Homo sapiens: one gene and its partners. The protein of the gene in region 3 interacts with the protein of the main gene of each other region in a pairwise test. Each region holds a gene or a part of one and is shown on either strand. Other genes may lie near its edges.

What was found.
Region 1: the proteins of MARCHF5 (region 3) and ANKS6 interact in binary tests that used the Homo sapiens proteins (3 or more experiments, as listed by UniProt).
Region 2: the proteins of MARCHF5 (region 3) and UBE2W interact in binary tests that used the Homo sapiens proteins (3 or more experiments, as listed by UniProt).

The regions. Positions count from the first base shown.
Region 1 is NC_000009.12:98,772,526-98,779,555, reverse strand, and holds part of ANKS6 (ankyrin repeat and SAM domain-containing protein 6), read left to right. Parts: intron 1-1,131; coding exon 1,132-1,330; intron 1,331-2,101; coding exon 2,102-2,151; intron 2,152-5,475; coding exon 5,476-5,679; intron 5,680-7,030.
Region 2 is NC_000008.11:73,785,689-73,791,862, reverse strand, and holds the end of UBE2W (ubiquitin-conjugating enzyme E2 W), read left to right. Parts: 3' UTR 1-5,644; downstream 5,645-6,174. UniProt on the Homo sapiens protein: Accepts ubiquitin from the E1 complex and catalyzes its covalent attachment to other proteins.
Region 3 is NC_000010.11:92,294,160-92,301,189, forward strand, and holds part of MARCHF5 (E3 ubiquitin-protein ligase MARCHF5), read left to right. Parts: intron 1-7,030. UniProt on the Homo sapiens protein: Mitochondrial E3 ubiquitin-protein ligase that plays a crucial role in the control of mitochondrial morphology by acting as a positive regulator of mitochondrial fission and as an important regulator of immune response.

The DNA of each region.
Region 1 (7,030 bases), on a different chromosome or scaffold from region 3:
TAGATCTCTCTCTCTTTTTTTTTTAAAGGAAAAAATAGAAATCCAGATTTTGATATGGAATCTTAATTTATAAGTACAGGGAATTTTAGAAAATTCTGCATGATGTAGTACTGAGCTGGCCAAAGCAAACACTTCTCTTCCCAAGGAATCCGTTTGCAGCCTCTGCTTTACTGTGCAGGATATTTGCTGATCATGCCACTCTGGGGTCTCCCTGCAGTCCACAGGCCCTGCCAGCTTCCTGGAAACACCAGAAACAAGCTCTGGTGGCTGCTTGTAACTGCAAGCTGAGACTTTCTCTTTGGATTTCTCATCTTCCACATCCTGCTCTACTTGTTTGAAATCAAACTTACTTTATGCCTGAGAAAACAAAACAACACACTGGTCTTGTCTGCTGACCTCCCCAGTCTGCATGGGGTGGTAGCGCCTTCTGAGGGCTGCAGACTCGGCGCTCCTTTTGTGTCCATTGCTGGCTCAAGCTCTGCATCCTTCCTGACTGTGTTGTTCTCATAGCTCCCTTCATTCCTGCTCTTACTGCCATTTCCACAGGCAGGCCCTCACAGATGCCCTTCGTGGCTGTTCATTAACCTCTGAGTGGTCATGGGTTACAAGCGTTCCCAGGAGGTAGTGCCTGTCCTCTCTAGGTGAGGCTCAGCTATAGGAGCAGCTGGCCCAGGCCCTGGTATAGAGATCCTGATGCCTCTCACGTTATCACCAGAGCAGGAGGAGGGAGATTATGCTATTGTAGACGCTTAGGAATCTGGAGCTGCCTCTGTGTCCATCTGTCCCTGTCTCACTGTAAGACCTCAAGCAAGTCAGCAATCCTGTCTGGGTCTCCATTTCTCAATCTGTGCAATGAGGAGATTGATTAGATGAGGGGTGGCAAATAGGGTTCACTGCCACCTCCAGGCTATTGGAAGTGACTGCCTAAGGGCTGGGTCAGGAAAGATTTAGTGAGTAACCATGGCTTATTGGGAATGGGTGCTATCATTGATCAGTAATGTCTGTCTGGGCCCCAGGAGAGGGGAGGGCAGGCACATGTGAATGTAGTCACTGTCTCTGGGCTGGCAGGTCCTGGGCCTGGTCTCCTTGCCCTTCCTGGAGCATGACTTCTGCTCTGCGTTCCTTTGGCAGTCCTGGTGGAACCGAATGTCCAATCGGTTCCGAAAGCTCAAACTGATGCAGACGCTGCCCCGTGGGCTGTCCAGCAACCAGCCTTTGCCTTTCTCTGACGAGCCTGAGCCAGCTCTGGACTCCACAATGAGGGCTGCCCCCCAGGACAAGACAAGCCGCTCTGCACTCCCTGATGCGGCCCCTGTGACCAAAGACAATGGTGAGAAAAGTCTGCATGTGCAGTAGAATTTTTGGAATGGTCTGAGCCTGTACCCTCTGCCCTTCATCCTACCTCCTGGGTTGCTGTCAGGGGTAAGATGATGTTGGAATGGGACACTGGAGCATAGAGGCTGGTCTGGTGGAAAAGATACTTAGGCAGGGACACAACCACCAAGAGTGTGATAGAATGAGAAGGTGCTGGCCAGTGGCAAGAGGCCCAGGTTCCTGTCCCACACTCCCTGCTGAGGGACGACAGGGAGTCGTCCTCTCTCTTGCCTTTGATAGGTGGTTTTCCCCACCTCTGAAATGTGATTGGTCTATGACACTGAAAGCATCTTGAAATAAAATGAGTTACTGGGAGGGTGTGAGTAGTGAGCTCCCCGTCACTCAAGGTATTCAACAGCTTGGATAACTTTGTCAGTTTGCTGAAGGAGATTCCCATACTGACTGGAACATAGATAAGATCCCTTCTAACAGTCAGATTCCCCATGACCAGATTAGCTACTTTGGCACCACTGTCTGAGACAGACTATTGAGCTGGGGGCACCACTGTCTGACTCAGTACGGCAGTGGTTTATGGAAAAGCTGAAAACATGCTCCAATATACCTTTTAAATGCCTTCCTTCTATTAAAATATCGAATACCAATTATTATTAAATATTTAAGCACCCAGGAGAGTTGGTTTTCCAGGTTGAAGCCTGCCCCAGTCACTCATCCTTATGCTGTGGACACGTGGAGGGGTCATTTCAGGAAATTTCCATTTGTCTCTCAGGTCCTGGGAGCACAAGAGGAGAAAAGGAAGACACGTTATTGACAACCATGGTGAGTGTGGGGCTTTTCTAAAAGCATTTTAGGTCTCCGGCAATCATCAGTTGATTGATTTACAAGGAGGGATGTAGGTGTTTGTCTGTCTTTGTAGTGGTCACAGATAGGGTTGGTGATGAGAATGTGTAACAGTGGGCTTAGCTCTGGCACTGAGGAGTCAGAACAGATGCCAGCTCTAAACTGTGGAGAGGGCTGTGCTGGTGCTCACCCGCTGGGTGTCAGCCCTGGCCCTGTTCTCATGGAGGCAGGGGATTGAGGGTAGGAATTGATGGGCAGCATGAGAAATGAAGACTCACCATTTGGGCTGTGGAGAACCAGGGTGAGAGGAGTCAAAGAGGAGGCTATGTTTCCAGCTGGGGAGGCCTCAGTTTCCTCATCTGTAACTTAGAGATGTATTAGGATTAGGGTCAACTGTGAGTAACGGAAAATCCCCAAGTAACAATGGTGTAAATAAGACAGCAGCCTACTTCATTCAAGTAAACAAAGTCCAGAACTAGTATATGGCTCATTGGAGTTAGGGACTTGAGTCCTTTCTGCCTGTTGGTCCCCCATGTGTAGTTTCTGTTTCTCAGGTCACCTCTTGGTTCAAGATGGCTGCCAGAGCTCTGGCCCATGACGGCCTCATTCCAGCCAGCAGGAGAGAGGAGGGGAGAAGAGGTAGCCATGGGCACATGCCAGCTGTCTTTAAGGAAGTTTCTTGGGGCCACGCACAGTAGCTCATGCCTGTAATCCCAGCACTTTGGGAGGCGGAGGCAGGTGAATCACGTGAGGTCAGGAGTTTGAGACCAGCCTGGCCAACATGGTGAAACCTCATCTCTACTAAAAATACAAAAATTAGCTGGGCATGGTGGTGGGCGCCTGTAATACCAGATACTCGGGAGGCTGAGGCAGGAGAATTGCTTGAACCCGGGAGGTGGAGGTTGCAGTGAACCAAGCTCGTGCCATTGCTCTCCAGCCTGGGCAACAGAGCAAGATTCTGTCTTTAAAAAAAAAAAAAAAAAGGGTTTTTGGCAACTACTCTGCTTAAATCACAGTGGGGAAGCTGGGAAATGAAGTCTTTGTTCCAAGTGGTCCTGTGCCCATCTAAATGAACATTAGGGGTGTCATTTCTAAGATGTGAAAAGTAGATACTGGGGGACAGTTTGCAGTCTCTGACTTCGGGGATCCCTCATGGTTATGGTTTTTAAACAAGATCACTCCCAGGAAGTTCTTAGCATAGTGTCTGGCCCAGAATAAGCTCCGTGGTGTGAACTTGGATGTGTTACCTCCCCTCTCTGGGTTTCACGTTTGTTTCCTCTGACATGAGAGCTTAGTGGTTAAAGTTGGACTTGAGTCCCTTTAGCGCTAAGACCCTAATACTAGCCAGCAGAGGGCAGTATTGCTGAGGACAAGGGAGCAGAGGGGGCTCCCAGAAAAGGCATCAGCAGTGTCAGGAACTTTAGAGCCCAGCGAGGGGTCCTGACCCAATCTGCCCACGGCTCCCTGCCACCCCAACAGGTGTAAATTGATGGCTCGAACACTGACTGTGGGGGCTTGTGCTGCCTGACGTTTGATCATGTTATTAAATAGCAATAATTATTTTTGGTGTGAAGACAGAAATGCTATTTTAGAAATTTTGGAAGAAGCAGTAAAACATATAGAAGGAAAATAAATTCATCCCTGATCACACACCCAACTATAACCATGGTTGGCATTTTTATGGATATGTCTTTTGAGTATTTTTTGTAAGCAGTTTTTTAGCATGTATAAATATGATATGATGTTGTATATAATAATAGCAAATACCATAGCTTTTACTAAGTACCAGCTACTATTCATCGCACTTTGCATGTATCAGCTCATTTAATATTCCTGAGGTTGGCACTGTTAGTATCTTTCCCATATTGTGTTGAATCCAATTTATTTGTGATTTATGTGTTGTGACCATCTTTTCCATGTCATAAAACACCATGTAGCCACATCATATTTAATGGCTACATTAGAACATTCTAGTGTAGGAACGTGTCTCTTTATCCAAGACTGAACTGTCAGACTCTGGGATTTCTAGTTTTTTGTTATTTTAACAGCTCAGATGAATGTCCTTATACCTTCGTTTCCCCCACTTGCCTGATTATTTGCTCAGGATGAATACCTAGAAATGGAATTCCTGGGTCAAAGGTTGTGAATGTCATTGGCTTCCAGAAAGATAGCAACAATTTAGACTGTTACCCCAGGGAGGGAAAATACCCTTTTGTGGTGGTGGATTTGTCGCTGTGAGTTTCCAACTCAACCCCGTTTGCTGGATGAGCTTGTTGTGGTCTAGAGGGAAAGAGGGGACAGCACTTGTTTAGAGACTCAGAAAAGCAGGACAGAGCCAGCCTGGGAACCCCGGAGGTGTACTACTTCCCCAACTGCTCATGCCCTGTAGAGGGCGCCAGTGTGCCTGCCCCCCCATAATGGGTGGGGTGGCCCGGCTGCCCTGCTGATGGGCATGTGCAGCCATCAGTGTGGAGATGCCCGCCTGCTCGGCTCCCGAGGCGAGTTTAGCTGTGGGATGCCCGTTGCTGCAAAGCTCCATCTGGCACAAAGTTCACTATTTTTCTTAATTAAGGTGAGCTTGGTCTGTGAACACTTCCTTGAAGATCTAACAGTCATTACTGTGTAGATTTTATACTGACCCCCAAATCACATTTTCAAAATTAAAAATTAAATTACAATTAAATGTCAGCAGCAGGAGGCGTGGCTGGAGCAAGCTGGGATGTGGGGGGCTGGGGAAGAGAGTGGTGCTGAGCCCTAGCCCTTATCACCTCCTGCTTCCTTCTTCACTCCCAATGGCTGCTCATGCTGGTCTCCTTGCAGCACTGCACCCATGTCCTGCTCCTCTAGGTTCCAGGCCTTTCCATATTCTGGCCCCTCACTCAGTCTGGAATGCACCTCCTGGTCCTCACTGGCCCAGCTTAAACTGTCGTTCTCAGCTCGGTTCCCACAAAGGTGCCTTCACTGTGCAGCAGGGGCACCCCTCCTCTGTGTTCTCCCAGTTCCCCTGCCTCCCCCACAGCACACCAACATCATCTGCTTCTCCTTGGCGCTCTGTCTCCTCTGCCCCATTCTGATCTTGCTGCTGTGAGGAGAGATCCAGAAGAAGCCTGGTGTTGGCGCAGAGCAGACATGGGTGTTGTGCGGTTACTGGGAGGAGAGCTGTAGATGCCACATAGCTCCCGGCTTGGGTGGAGGGGTGGATGGTGGTGCCATGCCCCAAGAAGCAGGAAAAACATGGAGTCTTTCCTGCAGAGTTGGGAGCCCTCCTGGGGGCTTGTCTAACCCTCAGCCTGTCTTTTTCAGCTTCGAAACGGAGCTCCCCTCACCAGACTCCCGAGTGACAAGCTGAAAGCAGTCATCCCCCCATTCCTACCCCCTTCCAGTTTTGAGCTGTGGAGCTCTGATCGGTCCCGGACGCGTCACAACGGGAAGGCAGACCCCATGAAGACTGCGCTGCCCCAGAGAGCCAGCAGGGGCCACCCCGTGGGCGGCGGGGGCACAGACACTGTAAGTTGTCTTCTGACACACTTTTACACATCACTCACTGCTCACTGAGATCATGGTGTGTTCCAGGCAGCGGGACCTCAAACCGACGAATCCAGAGGGGTTGCAACTTTTTTTTTCTTTTGAATGGATGATATCCTTTTGTCTAATGAAGCCCTACAGAGCAACTCAGTATGGAAAATAGATTAAAATGTTGAGGTAGCAGGGAACATCTGTCCCCTCACTGGAACCCTAGATCTCCAAGGAGCACAGTTTGAAGACCTGATCCATCTAATCCAACCTTCCTTTTAGTAGATGAGGAAACTGGGACCCAGGGAGTGGGAGTAATAGCTGAAGATCACCAGCCAAGTGTGAGTGAACCATAATCAAGAGCAAACACTCAGCGGCAACTCTGTGTGCTACTGGTGTTTTCTTGTGCCCAAGAGTATGACTTCTATCCTTTTGACTGTAGTGATTTCTAACTTGGTGGCTCTTGGTCTGTTTCTGAAATTGACAGTCTCATCAGTGTGGAAGGTATCTGTGTGTAACCTGTATCTAGATGGTAGATGCAGCAAATGGGCAAGACGAAGGGATTCAGGACTGACCCTGTCGCCATGTGCTGGGTGATTGGAGAAACGTGTGGCCTCTATCTCTATACGATGGGGCTGACCCCAGCACTCACTGCTGCCTCCTAGGGCTATGATAGTATGAGATCACCTGCAGGAGACCAAGAGCCTGGCGCCTGGAGATGCTCTCAAAACAGGCAGGACAGGTTTGCATTTAGTCCACTATTCTCGATCAGGTAGGAACGGGGGAGTTGTAGAACCCATCCCTGAGACTTCTTCTATGGCTGTGTTTCCTTGAGAATTTAACCCTAGAGGGACAGAACATCAACTTGACTTGCTTCATTTGCTCAGTGAACATTAACTGAATCCCACTGCCATGTAGCCCAGTCAGCCCCATTCTGCCCTAGAAGAGGTGGTGGTCTGGGTGGCAAAGACACAGGCACAGAACATGAGGCAGGGAGCAGTGTTAGGAGTGTGGGAGCGCCAGAGAGGTGACCGTGTGTGGTAGGGCACTCGGGAGGCCTCCAGGAAGAGGCGACAGCTGAGCTGGGATTTGCAGGCTGTGGAAGAGTTTTCTCCCCAGTGGAGTGCAGGCAGCAGCGTCCCAGGTAGAGGGAGAGAGAACGTGAGCTATGGCCTTTGCAAGTGTGTTCTGTTTCGCTTACTCAGCAGAGGGGCCTCATTCTGGGCCCTGGGGATCGTGTCACTGTCCCTCCCTTAGGAGTGCCCACAGTGGGGGGCCAGGGCCCTGGGATCTGTCACTGTCTCTCCCTTAGGAGTGCCCACAGTAGAGGACCAACAAGAGGACC
Region 2 (6,174 bases), on a different chromosome or scaffold from region 3:
ATAAATACCATAAAGTAAACTAAAATGACACAGAGGAAAGTAGAGGAAAATGAAATAATTTCGGTACATCTTATGGTTTAAAGAGTAGAAAATAAGATGAAATATCCTAAAATATAGGAGCACAGACATTTAAAATTCATAATCAGGCTAACAACACTCTCTTGAATTTAGGAATCATTGAAAACTCCTTGCACTTAGATTTAATTTATATGTTAGTTACATTATTAAAAGTCATAAGGCATTTATCTGAGTCATTGCTCTACAGAGAGCAATTAATGGCTTGTAATAATAAAAAGAATATTTCTCTGTAATGCATTGTTGAAAGACAACCAGAATATCAAGAAAATGTATATAGGAATATGCTACTTGCCTCCTCCCTGCATTTCCTCGTGGGGCACTATTTGCGACATAGGCCTACAGAATTAGACTTTCATACTTAGAAGATAAGGTACACTCTTCTTCTTTTATTTATTTATTTATTTATTTTTAGGCCATTCTTCTGGTTTGCCAAATTCTATTAAGACAGTGATACATTTGCTTCCTTATTTATGCATGCTTAGATCATGAACATGATGCCCTTCTTTTTTTTTTTTTTCTTTGGTCAAGTAGGGATTAATGCCATAGGTTTAGAGAGAAGGATTGTTTTCAGTTTTTAAGAGAATTTTTTAAAAATACATTTTATGGTTCTCTTAAGGAATTAATATTCACTTCTGAAGGACTTACTTGTAATATATAATTTATCATTTTAGCCAGCAGGGAAATAAATCATTTTTAATCCCCAGAAGAAAGTGCTGGAAATAGCTTCTATATAGTCAGCAGTTCACCTGGAGAAAGATCTTAATTCCTTGTTGTTTTGACTAGGAATATCAATATTTGGTATAAAATAACTAGAATAGTTTATTACCTTTTCCCTCATGAAATTTTAAATATATGCAAATATATATATCATTAGATTCCTGTGGTGGATAATAATTTCTTCAGATTCTAAAACAGGTGTCTAGTGACTGCTTAATTGTTTCCAAGTTGCATCAAAGATGAATTGGTAAATAATGGAAATGAGTAGTGATATGAAAATGGTTATGTAACTACATATTACTTGTTTCTGGTAATCAAGTCTTATTTTTTAAAAGCCTATTGTTTTTCAGAATTGAGATATTTAAAACTTGTTATAACTTCTTCCTAAAAATAGAAGAGAAGAGGAGGTACTGTGTGTTACAAAAATTTTTTTAAATAAAGAATTCAGTGTCACTAGTTCTAAGCCTTTATGGTTACTGCTGCTTATATTTCTTGATCTCACTTTCATTAATTTTTTTGTACATATCTTAGCTGAATGCTTAAAATTTACAATTATTTGTAATTGTGTATGTAAATTGCTTTTCAAAAAGAACTGAAGCTTAACCATATTCTTCTTTTCTGAGGATTCATTATCAGAATCAGCTACTATACTGTTCTGTGTTATAGTAATGCCGTTACTGCCTGTGCATGATTGAGGTCTGTGAAGAAGGTGTCTTTTAATCTGCACCAACTGGCCCCAATCCTCTTTGTAGTCCTTTTTAAATTGTTTTAAATCTGTCCTTTATTTTTCTTCCTATTTTTCTGCCTCTTCCCACTGATGTCCAATGTGTCAGTCTTCCGCAGTTTCCTTTTCTCACTTCTAATTTATTCTCTCTTTTTTTTTTCTGAGGTTAGGGATTCTACAGAAGGACGATTATTAAAATTATGCCATGAATTTTTGAAAAATTTAAAATGCTCTCCTACAAATAAAATACATGGAGTTTCTGATACTAATTTCAGTTTGTCAGTAGATGGCTAAATTTGTTGAATAATTGACTACTTGGTAAATGAGCTGTTAGCTGTAATTAGTTCTTTAGTACTAATATTAAGGAAATTTTGTTATTTTCGGATGAGGACTCTCCCAAAGCCAAATTATTGTCCAAGCAAATTATTTATTTTTTCCATTTAAATTTCTAAGTCATTTTGAGATGTGGAATGATTATTTTTATTATTTATTTATTTATTTATTTTTGAGACGGAGTCTTGCTCTGTCACCCGGGCTTTAGTGCAGTGCACGATCTTGGCTCATTTCAATCTCCACCTCCTGGGTCTAAGCGATTCTCCTGCCTCAGCCTCTTGAGTAGCTGGGATTACAGGCATGTGCTGCCACACCTGACTAATTTTTAGTAGAGACAAGGTTTCACCGTGTTGGCCAGGCTGGTGTTGAACTCCTGACTTCAAGTGATCTGCCCACCTCAGCCTCCCAAAGTGCTGCGATTACAGGCATGACCCACCACACCCAGCCTGGAATCATTTTTTAAAAATAATTTGTGGGAGACTTGCTTTCTCAACATAAATTGTGTGTGGGTTGTTTTTTGTTTTTTGAGACGGTCTTCCTCTGTTGCCCAGGCTGGAGTGTGCAGTGGAACAGTCATTGCAGCCTTGACCACCTTGGCTCAAGCAATCCTCCTGCCTCCCGGGTAGCTGAGTCTACAGGTGTGTGCCACCATGCCTGGATGGATAGAATTTTTTTTTTTTTTTTTTTTTTTTTTTTTTTTTTTAAAGACACGAGGTCTCACCATGTTGCCCAGGCTGATCTTGAATTCCTGGGCTCAAGCATTCCTCCTGCCTCAGCCTCCCAAAATGCTGGGATTACAGGTGCAAGCCACCATGCCTCGTCTGTTTGCCGATTTAAGACAGGTTTATGTACATCATTATCATTAGAGGCACATAGAATCTAGACATGTACTTGAAACTTAGCTCTCTATCCTGAAAGTTGAAGTTAGGGTTCTTTGATCCTGGTGAGATGTTAATTGTAATTTTAATTTTCATATGTTAATATTGTGACTTGTATTTTGTGATGAGTCTCTAGAATGATTAAATGACTATTTTTTTATGAAAAATTTTTTGTTAATAAAATATCTGAGGGTATTTTGAGTATGTGGAAGGAATGCCTGAATAGAAGCTGATCTATCTTAACATACCTCAAGAACTCCAGTTTTAATATGGTGAGTGAGGAGTTGACTGGGAAAAGGAGAGATCCAATTCTTGTTCTAGTCCTTGGCACATACACTCTCTGGGTTTTGAGAAAAGGATGGTCCTACAACGATTCTAAGTTGTTTTCTCATTGGTCCTACAACAATTCTAAGTTGTTTTCTCAAAGGCAAAAGCATGATTTCAAAATGACATCACTTGTCAGATTTTCTGGTGTATGGAAAGATTTAATAATCCTGCCTCTTTTGAAGCCTGAAACTTACAATTTAAAGCCTGAAATCTACCATAAGGAACTTGGTAAATTGTGTCAGATACCATGAAAATGCATCTTTTCATAGTTAACCACAGATTGTTTATGTAAAGGCAAATTGGTGGTCAGGTTCAAGGTAAAATGGATTATTGGGTTGATTAGTAGCCAAAAACTAAATGCATGTTCAGGTCAAAATGAATTTGTTTGTTTTAGTTGGTGCCATTTTCCTTTTATTATTCAGAACTACAGAGTGTGCATTTTATTAATAGGAATGAAAGCTCATGCTTGAGGATTTGAATAGGGTGGATGTATATATTTTATAAACTCAAGTTGCAAAATATGTAAAGTCACTACTTTTTAAATAGAATATAAATGTTAAAACAGACAAATCTATGTTATATATTTTTTAATACATGTATCAGACTTGTTAGTTGAATGCAGATTACTTTGCTTTATGGAATTTCATAACTTTTAATAATAAAGCAGTTGTTATTGGATTTTTTCTGTAGACTTGAATACTAAATGGGATAGATACCAGACCTCTTTTTGGTTTATGACGTAAAAGTATTTGTACAGTAGTTTCTCTTCACAAAAGACTGAATTTTAAAGGATTATAGAAACAGGAACATGTCCATTTCCAAAATGAGTGCAACAGAATGAAGATAGTCACTTAAACCATCTATTTAACACATCACCTTTATGTAATATGTAGCTAGTTTTAGTGTTTTAATAAGTCCCAACTAAAGACTGAGTGTTTTCAGTGAAGATGGAAATGGAGACCCAGGCACTTGCTTAGAGTTATCGTGAGTCCGATGTTCCTGAACTTCAAGTTGTACAATTAAGGGCATACTCTAAGAACTTCTGGATGCTTTCTGGAGTATACAAACAGATCAACTAATGACTTAAATGAGTGACTCTTGAAGCTGCAAGAAGAGGAAAGAAATAACCACAAGAAGGGGCTATCTCAGCATCTGTTATTCCTGACAGGAGGAATTAAATATGCTCTGCTGGTAATTCTAAGCTTTTCTGCAGGGGATCTGCTTGCCCCAGGAGCACCTTAGTCCTCATTGAGGCAGCCATTCTGCCATAAAAACGATCATGTCTCAAGCTGTTCCTGCCGTCCTACACAACTATGTTAGTAGATGGTTAGATAAATATATGAACCATCTTTTGTACTTTGATGATGCCCTTTTCCTTTATTATAATCCTTAATTTCTACTTTCCATAGTAGGATTTGACTTTTCTCCATTAGTTTAAGCTACCCTGGATAAGTGACTCTGTTTATGTCCTCCCTATATTTCTTACTCATTTTCACACTAACATAACACGTAACAAAATTAAACATAAGCTAAATTGAAGAAGCAAGTGAGACAGCTAAGAGTTTTGTGTACTTGGACAACAAAGCTCAAAGCCACTGTGGTTATCTGTCCTGTTGGGAGCCCCTTTCAACCATTTTTTTAGTTGCCTGTAAGATTTATTTTTAATGTTTGCCTGCATAATGCAAAATACATAAGTGGGAATCCCTACGCCCTTTACAGTTAAGTGGATTATGGAAATAATAAGGAAAGTTTATCAACTAAGGTAGGAAATATCTTCTCATGTCTGTATCTGGCCTTCAGGGACTTAATGTGGGTGAATATATGTCATTAGACAAGATCCTAATATAGATGGCTGTATCCTGCAGATAGCCAATTCAACATTAAAATTTTATGTTTCCATACCTCAATGAAAACATATTTCTTTTATCCTGTTATAATTTAATGACATTCCCATCCAACTTAATCAAGCAATGATACTCAGTAGTCCTCTCCTTGCATTTTTCAAGTCCTGTTGAGTGTAACTTTAAAATGTCTCTGAGATTTCTACCTTCTCTCCAGTCTCCTTACCATTAGGGCCTTTCACTACCTGGCCTTGGTGTCCCTAGGCTGCTCTTCAGCTGTCCACAAACCTTGTTTCATAAGCAGTAGCAATGCAAGCTTCCACTGCCGTCTGCTAATGTTCTTCCCTCCTAGAATGTTCATGATCTGCGTTTCTACCTGAAAGGTCTAGTTCAAAGGTAGCTGAAAGGTTATCATCCTTGTCCTTTCTTCTCTCCCTACCAGTCATCTATCCTGAACTTTTTAACAGTAGGGACAGTGTTGCAATTGTGTTTGTGTCCCCAGCACGTAGCACACAGTACCTAGTATACAGTACCTGTAGCACATAGGCATTTAATAAGTGTGTATTGAATTAACTTGGTTATGCTTGTATTTTTATCCTAGCTTTCTCAAAGAAACTTAGGTGCTAGCTATTTTGAAACATATATCCAGAACCACCACCTGAGTAAAATGTATAACAGGACCCTGCTCTTTCTATCCCAGAGAGTTTGAGAAAACTACTTTTAAATAAATCATTAATCATTCTTCATTGGTTTTGGCTTTTTTTATAGGTGTTTCTCATATCTTTATCTCTGAGGCAAATTGCTTGTCACAAATTAATTGTTTTAAACTAAATACATCTCAGGAACCATAAAATCATAAAGGTAAACCTGACATAGAGTTTAAAAACCAGCATTAAGCAGATAATTATTGTGTGCCTTTCATATGCCAAGAAGGATGGCAGATGAGGTATATATCTTCAAAGGGCATATGTAATAAGGGAGATAATAAATAGAAAAGCATATCATATAAAATGTGACAAGCCTTAAGAGGTGCAGATAGTTTCTGATTATCAAAGAAACATGTCTGTGAAAAGTACTGTCATGCATAAAGATGGGCCAGGCACAGTGGCTTACGCCTGTAATCCCAGTACTTTGGGCAGGTGGATCACGTCAGGAGCTTGAGACCAGCCTGGCCAACATGGTGAAACCCCGTATCTACTAAAAATAAAATAACGGCGTGGTGGTGGGCGCCTGTAATCCCGGCTACTTGGGAGGCTGAGGCAGGAGAATAGCTTGA
Region 3 (7,030 bases):
ATATCTTTCATGATAAGAGATAGTAGGGTATAGTGAGTAAAGCTTGGGCTCAGAGATAGAAAGTATGAAATTCGAATTTTGCCACTTACTAGCTATGTGACTTTGAACTTAGATTCTGACACTATGTATATTATCATTTATAAAATGAGAACCCTACTTCACAGGGCTACAGCAAATGAAACATACATCTCTATAAAACAGCAAAACACTCTATGTTAGCCAAATAGAAGGCACTTAAGACTAATGTAAACCAGTTTGGCCATTTTTCCCCCATCTACTTTATGTTTACAGCTTTCTTCACCTGGGCTGGCCCTACTGCAAGTTGAACACAAAGATACTCAACATGGTTCACTTGAGGAATACCAACAGGGCCAAGAGACTAAAATATGTCAGCCTATTAGGACCCAGAATTCTTTTCATGAATTTGGCTTCTCCCCAACCTGGTTTTTGGTGGCAATTTTTGAGGGACAGAATTTAGCTCAGATAACTGTTCATTTGTTTATTTCTTTAATGCAGGTTTTATCTTCGTGAAGACTAAGGAACTGTGTGTTACATATTGTTCTGTTGCTTTTAGGTTAAGTTACGTATTTTATTTAGGCCAGGCACAGTAGCTCATGCCTGTAATCCCAGCACTTTGGGAGGCCGAGATGAGAGGATTGCTTGAGCCCAGGAGTTAGACACCAGTGTGGGCAACATGGCAAGACTCAGTCTTTACAAAAATGTTAAAAATTAGGCCAGGCCTGGTGGCACATGCCTGTGGTCCCAAATATTCAGGAAGCTGAGGTGGAAGGATTCCTTGGGGGTCGTGGCTGTAGTGAGCTGTGTTTGTGCCCCTGGGTACTACAGCCCAGGTAACAGAGCAAGACCCTGTCTTAAAAAAAAATGTTATTTTTCAGTAAATCAATTATTAAACATTTACACTTATTGAATTTATTTAACAAATACTGAGTGTCTTCATATGCCCAGTACTATTCTAGGCCCTTGGTATATAGTGGTGAATTGAACATAACAAAAATGCCCTTATGGAGCTTCAATTCCAGGGGTGTTTGTGTTGTCTAAACTGTCAAAGTGAAGACTATTTTAATTGTAATATGAATGGTATGTTCAATTTATACCATTTAATCTTTCAGGGTTTTTAAACTAGAGGCAACTTTTCTTTTTTTTTTTTTTTTTTTTTTTTTGAGGCGAAGTCTCACTCTGTCACTTGGGCCAACTGGTGACAACTTCTTTTATTTATTTATTTATTTATTTTTTATTTTTTTTTTTGAGACAGAGTCTCGCTCAGTCGCCCAGGCTGGAGTGCAGTGGCGCAATCTTGGCTCGCTGCAAACTGTGCCTCTTGGGTTCACGCCATTCTCCTGCCTCAGCCTCCCGAGTGGCTGGGACTACAGGCACCCGCCACTAAGGCCAGCTAATTTTTTTGTATTTTTAGTAGAGACGGGGTTTCACCGTGTTAGCCAGGATGGTCTCGATCTCCTGACGTCGTAATCTGCCGGAATTGACCTCCCACAGTGCTGGGATTACAGGCGTGAGCCACCGTGCCTGGCCTGTGGCAACTTCTTAATAGCTGAAGTTGAATTCCCTTGTCCTTTGCAAATAACTCACTTTAGTTTAGCTATTATTTGTTTATATTGGTAACTTTGATTACTGTAATATTTGTAGGTGGAAAGAATACATATACATACGTATATATATACATACATACATATATATATGGAATTTTTTTTTTTTTCATGGAATTTCGCTCTTGTTGCCCAGGCTGCTGGAGGGCAGTGGCGCGATCTCGGTTCACCACAACCTCCGCCTCTCGGGTTCGCGTGATTCTCCTGCCTTAGCTTCCGGAGTAGCTGGGATTACAGGCATGTGCCACCACGCCTGGCTAATTTTGTATTTTTAGTAGAGACTGGGTATCTCTATGTTGGTCAGGCTGGTCTCGAGCTCCTGACCTCAGGTGATCCACCTACCTCTGCTTCCCAAAGTGCTGGGATTACAGGGGTGAGCCACCACTCCTGACCATATGGATATATATTCTTTGGATTGCCTTTCGTTTTTATAAACTATAAGTGTTTTATGTAAATTTATTATTTGAACCTTTTAAGTTGTTGTGGGGAAACAAGAATGGTGGAAAGGGGGGTGATTTTTCTAGTGTCGTGAATGTTTCAGTGTCACAAATATCATTTCCCTGAAATGATAACCATTCATAAGCCCAAACCCTTTATGTCAGGCCTTTTGAACCTTAGTTAGCTCTTCTGTCTTTCATTGCTTCAATTCTTTAATAAGAAGTTGTTATATATTACTTTCTCTTTGACCACCGACATTCTCATTTTTCTCTAAAACTTCTCAAAGTTAGGAGTGAATTTACAGAGAACAATGCAAAGAATATTATAACAAACTGCAGGAATGGACCTCTGATTTGAAGCCTGGACCTACTGAGAAATGCTTTTGGAAACTACTTCTGCTTCCCCCGTCTTAAAATAAACACGCATTAATTTGTTGAGGTTGTTTTGCATCACTTACTTGCATCTAGTAAATAGGCAAGGAGTGTAGCCAGAATGTCCCCAGAATGGTCAGATGGCAGAAAGAGCAGAGAGAGTGGTCTATTCTTCCAGCCCCCTCCCACAATGGTATAGTGAATTAGAATTCTGCCTCTGTGAGAGTGTTATCCACAGATGTATACCCCTTTGAAGACCAAGGAAGCTATACTCTGATAGGAGCATGCTGTATAAACAATTTCACATTTTCTTTGTCAGTTGACCTCTTTTTCTCAATCACATCACCATGTTGACAATTACAGACCAATGCCCAGAATTAAAAATCATCATCAATTATATTTATTTCCAGATATATGTAAAAAATGGAAACATCATAGATAAAATTAAATCCCCTTTGACCACCATCCCCAATGGCATATCTTCTCATCCCCACTCCACTATCATAAAATGGGTTTATATTCTTCCATCCTTCTTGGTTTAATGCTTTTATATAGAAAAGTATATTAATAGACTACTTTTTTTTTTTTTTTTTTGAGTCAGGGTCTTACTCCATTGCTCAGGCTGGAGTGGAGGGTCACAGTCACGGCTCACTACAGCCTCAACCTCCCAGGCTCAAGTGATCCTCCCACCTCAGCTTCCAGAGTAGCTGGGACTACTGGTGTGCACCACCACACCTAGCTGATTTTTTGTATTTTTTTTGTGGAGATGGAGTTTCACCACGTTGCCCAGGCTGGTCTCAAACTCCTGGGCTCAAGTGATCCGCTCGCCTCGGCCTCCCAAAGCTCCCAAAGTGGGGGACTACAGGTGTGTTCCACCACATCCAGCTTTCAACTTTTTTTTTTTTTTTTTTTTTTTGAGACAGAGTCTCACCCTGCCACCCAAGCTGGAGTGCAATGGCGTGGTCTCGGCTCACTGTTGCAACCTCCACCTCCTGAGTTCAATTGATTCTCCCACCTCAACCTCCCAAGTGGCTGGGACTACAAGCACGTGCCACCACACCCAGCTAATTTTTTGTATTTTTAGTAGAGACAGGGTTTCACTGTGTTGGCCAGACTGGTTCAAACTCCCGACCTCGTGATCCACCTGCCTCGGCCTCCCAAAGTGCTGGGATTTCAGGCATGAGCCGCCACACCTGGCCTTTTTTCTTTTTTAATCCAGTCTCGTTTATGACATTTAGATTCTTATTTTCTCTTTATTATTTTTCCTGATAATTTGACTTTCATTCCCCTTTCTTGTCATTAGCTCTACTGAAAGTGTACTGAAGGGCTGGGTGCAGTGGCTCACACCTGTAATCCCAGCACTTTGGAAGACCGAGGCAGGCCAATCACTTGAGCTCAGGAGTTCAAGACCAGCCTGGCCAACATGGCGAATCCCCATCTCTACAAAAAATACAAACATTAGTAGGGCATAGTGGCACATACCTGTAATCTCAGCTACTCGGGAGGCTGAGGCACAAGAATCGCTTGAACCTGGGAGGCAAAGGTTGCAGTGAGCTGAGATCGTGCCACTGCACGATCTCTCTCTCTATATATGTATATGTATACTAAAGGTCACCAATAATTTCTTAGTAAATATAATGACATTTTCTTCAGGACTTTTTATCCTTCAGAATCACGTTACCTTTTTCTTCCTTCAATTTCTATGTATGGTTCAATTCTCAGCATTTACTATTTTGAGAAAGTACACTTACTCACTCTCTTTCCTGTTTATTCAAACAACTCCCAGATCTGTGTCTTTATTCCTGACCTCTTTTCCTCATTTCCTTTAGCACCTAATTTCTACCTGCCCAGTGGACATTTCCATTTGTGTGTATACAGTATTGCCAATCAATCTAAAACTAAGCTACTTATCTTGACTTCTCAATTTTTGGTCTTTGATATTACCAGTCTTCTTGTCCACCAGCTATAAAACATAAATTTTATTTGTTTGTTTGTTTTTGAGACAGGGTCTGGCTCTGTCGCCCAGGCTGGAGTGCAGTGGCCCATCTCGGCTTACTGCAACCTCCATCCCCCACCCTCCGGCTCAAAATATCCTCCCACCTCACCCTCCTGACTAGCTGGGACTGCATGTCCAGCTAATTTTTGTATTTTTAGTAGAGACGGGCTTTCGCCGTGTTGCCCAGGCTGGTCTCAAACTCCTGAGCTTAAGTGACCCTCCTGCCTCAGCCTCCCATAGTGCTGGGATTACAGGCATGAAGCTAGCCAAAACATAAGTTTTTCTTGTTTTCTTTGTTTTTGTTAAAGAAACAGGGTCTTGCACTCCCAGGCTCAAGCCTCCCAAGTAGCTAGGAGCACAGGGCAAGCCAGCATGCCCAGCTAATTTTTTTTAAACTTTTTTTTTTTTGGTGGGGAGGGGGATAGAGACGGGTCTCACTATGTTGCCCAGGCTGTCTCAAACTCCTGTTCTCCACCAATCCTACCTTGGCCTCCCAAAGTGTTAGGACTACAGGTATGAGCTACCTTGCCCGGCCTATTTACATTTTTTTGCTGCCTTCTTTCCTTCCAGATCCACTTGTTCATCACATATTGTTGATTTTCCTTTTTCTAGCTTCAATTTTTCACTTGGTCCAGTTTGGCCTACAGAGTGGCACTAGAATTAGCGAAGGCACAATTATAATCATGCGATTTCTATACTTAAAAATCTGCCAGTCTCTGTGTCACGTAAAAGGATAAAACGTAAACTTTCAACGGGGTAACGTGCTTTGATCTGTTACTATAATCCAGCCCCAACCTACCTTAACCATCCTTTCCTGCACTCCCCTTCATTGACCCCTGAACATATCCTGCTCTTTCATTTCTTTATTTTTGCTTTAGGTGCCTTCCTCCCTCCTAACACCTGGTGAAGTCTTACCCATATTGAATTCAGCTGAAATACCACAGTGACACCTTGCACAGCTCCCCCAAACAGAGTTAATAACTCCTTTCTGTGTTTCAATAGAACCTTGTTGCATTTATTATAGTGTATCACATTGTACTGTAAATTTTTTAATATACTTGTCCCATGTCTCAGAGCTTCCCACACACACACATATTCATCTGGAAGTTCACTGAGAACAGAAACTGCCTGTATTCCCTATCCTATTTTCCCACAAGGGCCTTAGTGCATAGGAGACCCTCTTTTGTATCATGATGTCTTTCTTTTCATTCTTTGTGACATATCAGTGCTTAGAATAATCATGCAGAAGCACCATTTTTTTAAATTGCCTCATTTGCTCAAAACTTGTATTTTCTTACTGCTTATTGAGATTAAGTTCAGGGCTGGGCACTTTGGGAGGCTGAGGCAGGAGGATCGCCTGATCTCAGGAGTTTGAGACCCACCTGAGCAAAATACTAAGACCCCCGTCTCTACAAAAAATAAAAAAGTAACCAGTGTAGTGGTGCATGCCTATACTCCCAGCTACTCAGGAGGCTGAAGCGGGAGGTTCACTTGAGCCTGGGAGATTGAGGCTGCAGCAAGCCATTATCACATCACTGCACTCCAGCCTGGGTATAACAAAGCAAGACCTTGTCTCAAAAAAAAAAAAGAAAAGAAAAGAAAAAAAGATCTGGCCGGGCTCAGTGGCTCATGCCTGTAATCCCAGCACTTTGGGAGGCCGAGAGGAGCAGATTGCTTGAGCCCAAGAGTTTGAGACCAGCGTGGGCAACATGGAGAAACCCTGTGTCTACTTAAAAAAAAAAAGAAAGAAAGAAAAAATAGCTGGGTGTGGTGGCCCACACCTGTAATTGCAGCTGCTGGGGAGGCTGAGATGGGAGGATCACCTGAGCCCAGGTTATGGAGGTTGCAGTGAGCTGAGATTGCACCATGCCACTGCACTCCAGCCTGGGCCACAGAGCAAGACCCTGTCTCAAAAAAAAAAAAGAGATCATATTCTTTAGCCTGTCCTTCAGGACACTCACCATTATTCACAGACCATTTATTATGCTCCCTATTATGTTTAAGATATGCCGTACATAGCTGGCACCAACTGCCTTTTTAAAGCCTTTCTTCTCTTTATGAATAAGTGTATAAGTACCCAAGTCTTTTGCCCAAGCCAAACTGGCTTGCGCACTTTCTTCCAAACATAAGGTGGTTTTTGTTTTTGGGTTTTGTTTGGCATCTTTTCTTTCAAAGCTCTACCCATTTTTCAAGACCTAGTTAGGTTCTGCCTTGTTTATAATGCTCTTCTGACCATGTCTGCAGAAATATTTTTCTCTTCTTCTCCAGACTCATGTAGCAGTTCATCTTCAGTGCCTCCTAATTCTTTTTTTTTTTTTTTTTTGAGGCAGAGCCTTCACTCTGTTGCCCAAGCTGGAATGCAGTAGTGCAACCTTGGCTCACTGCAGCCTCCGGGTTCAAGCGATTCTCATGCTTCAGCCTCCCAAGTAGCTGGGATTACAGGTGTGTGCCATCATGCTCAGCTAATTTTTTGTATTTTTAGTAGAAACAGGGTTTCACTGTTTTGGCCAGGCTGGCCTTGAACTCCTGGTCTCAAGCAGTCCTCCCCACTCAGCCTCCCAAAGTGCTGGGATTACAGGCATGAGCCACCACGCCTGACCTGC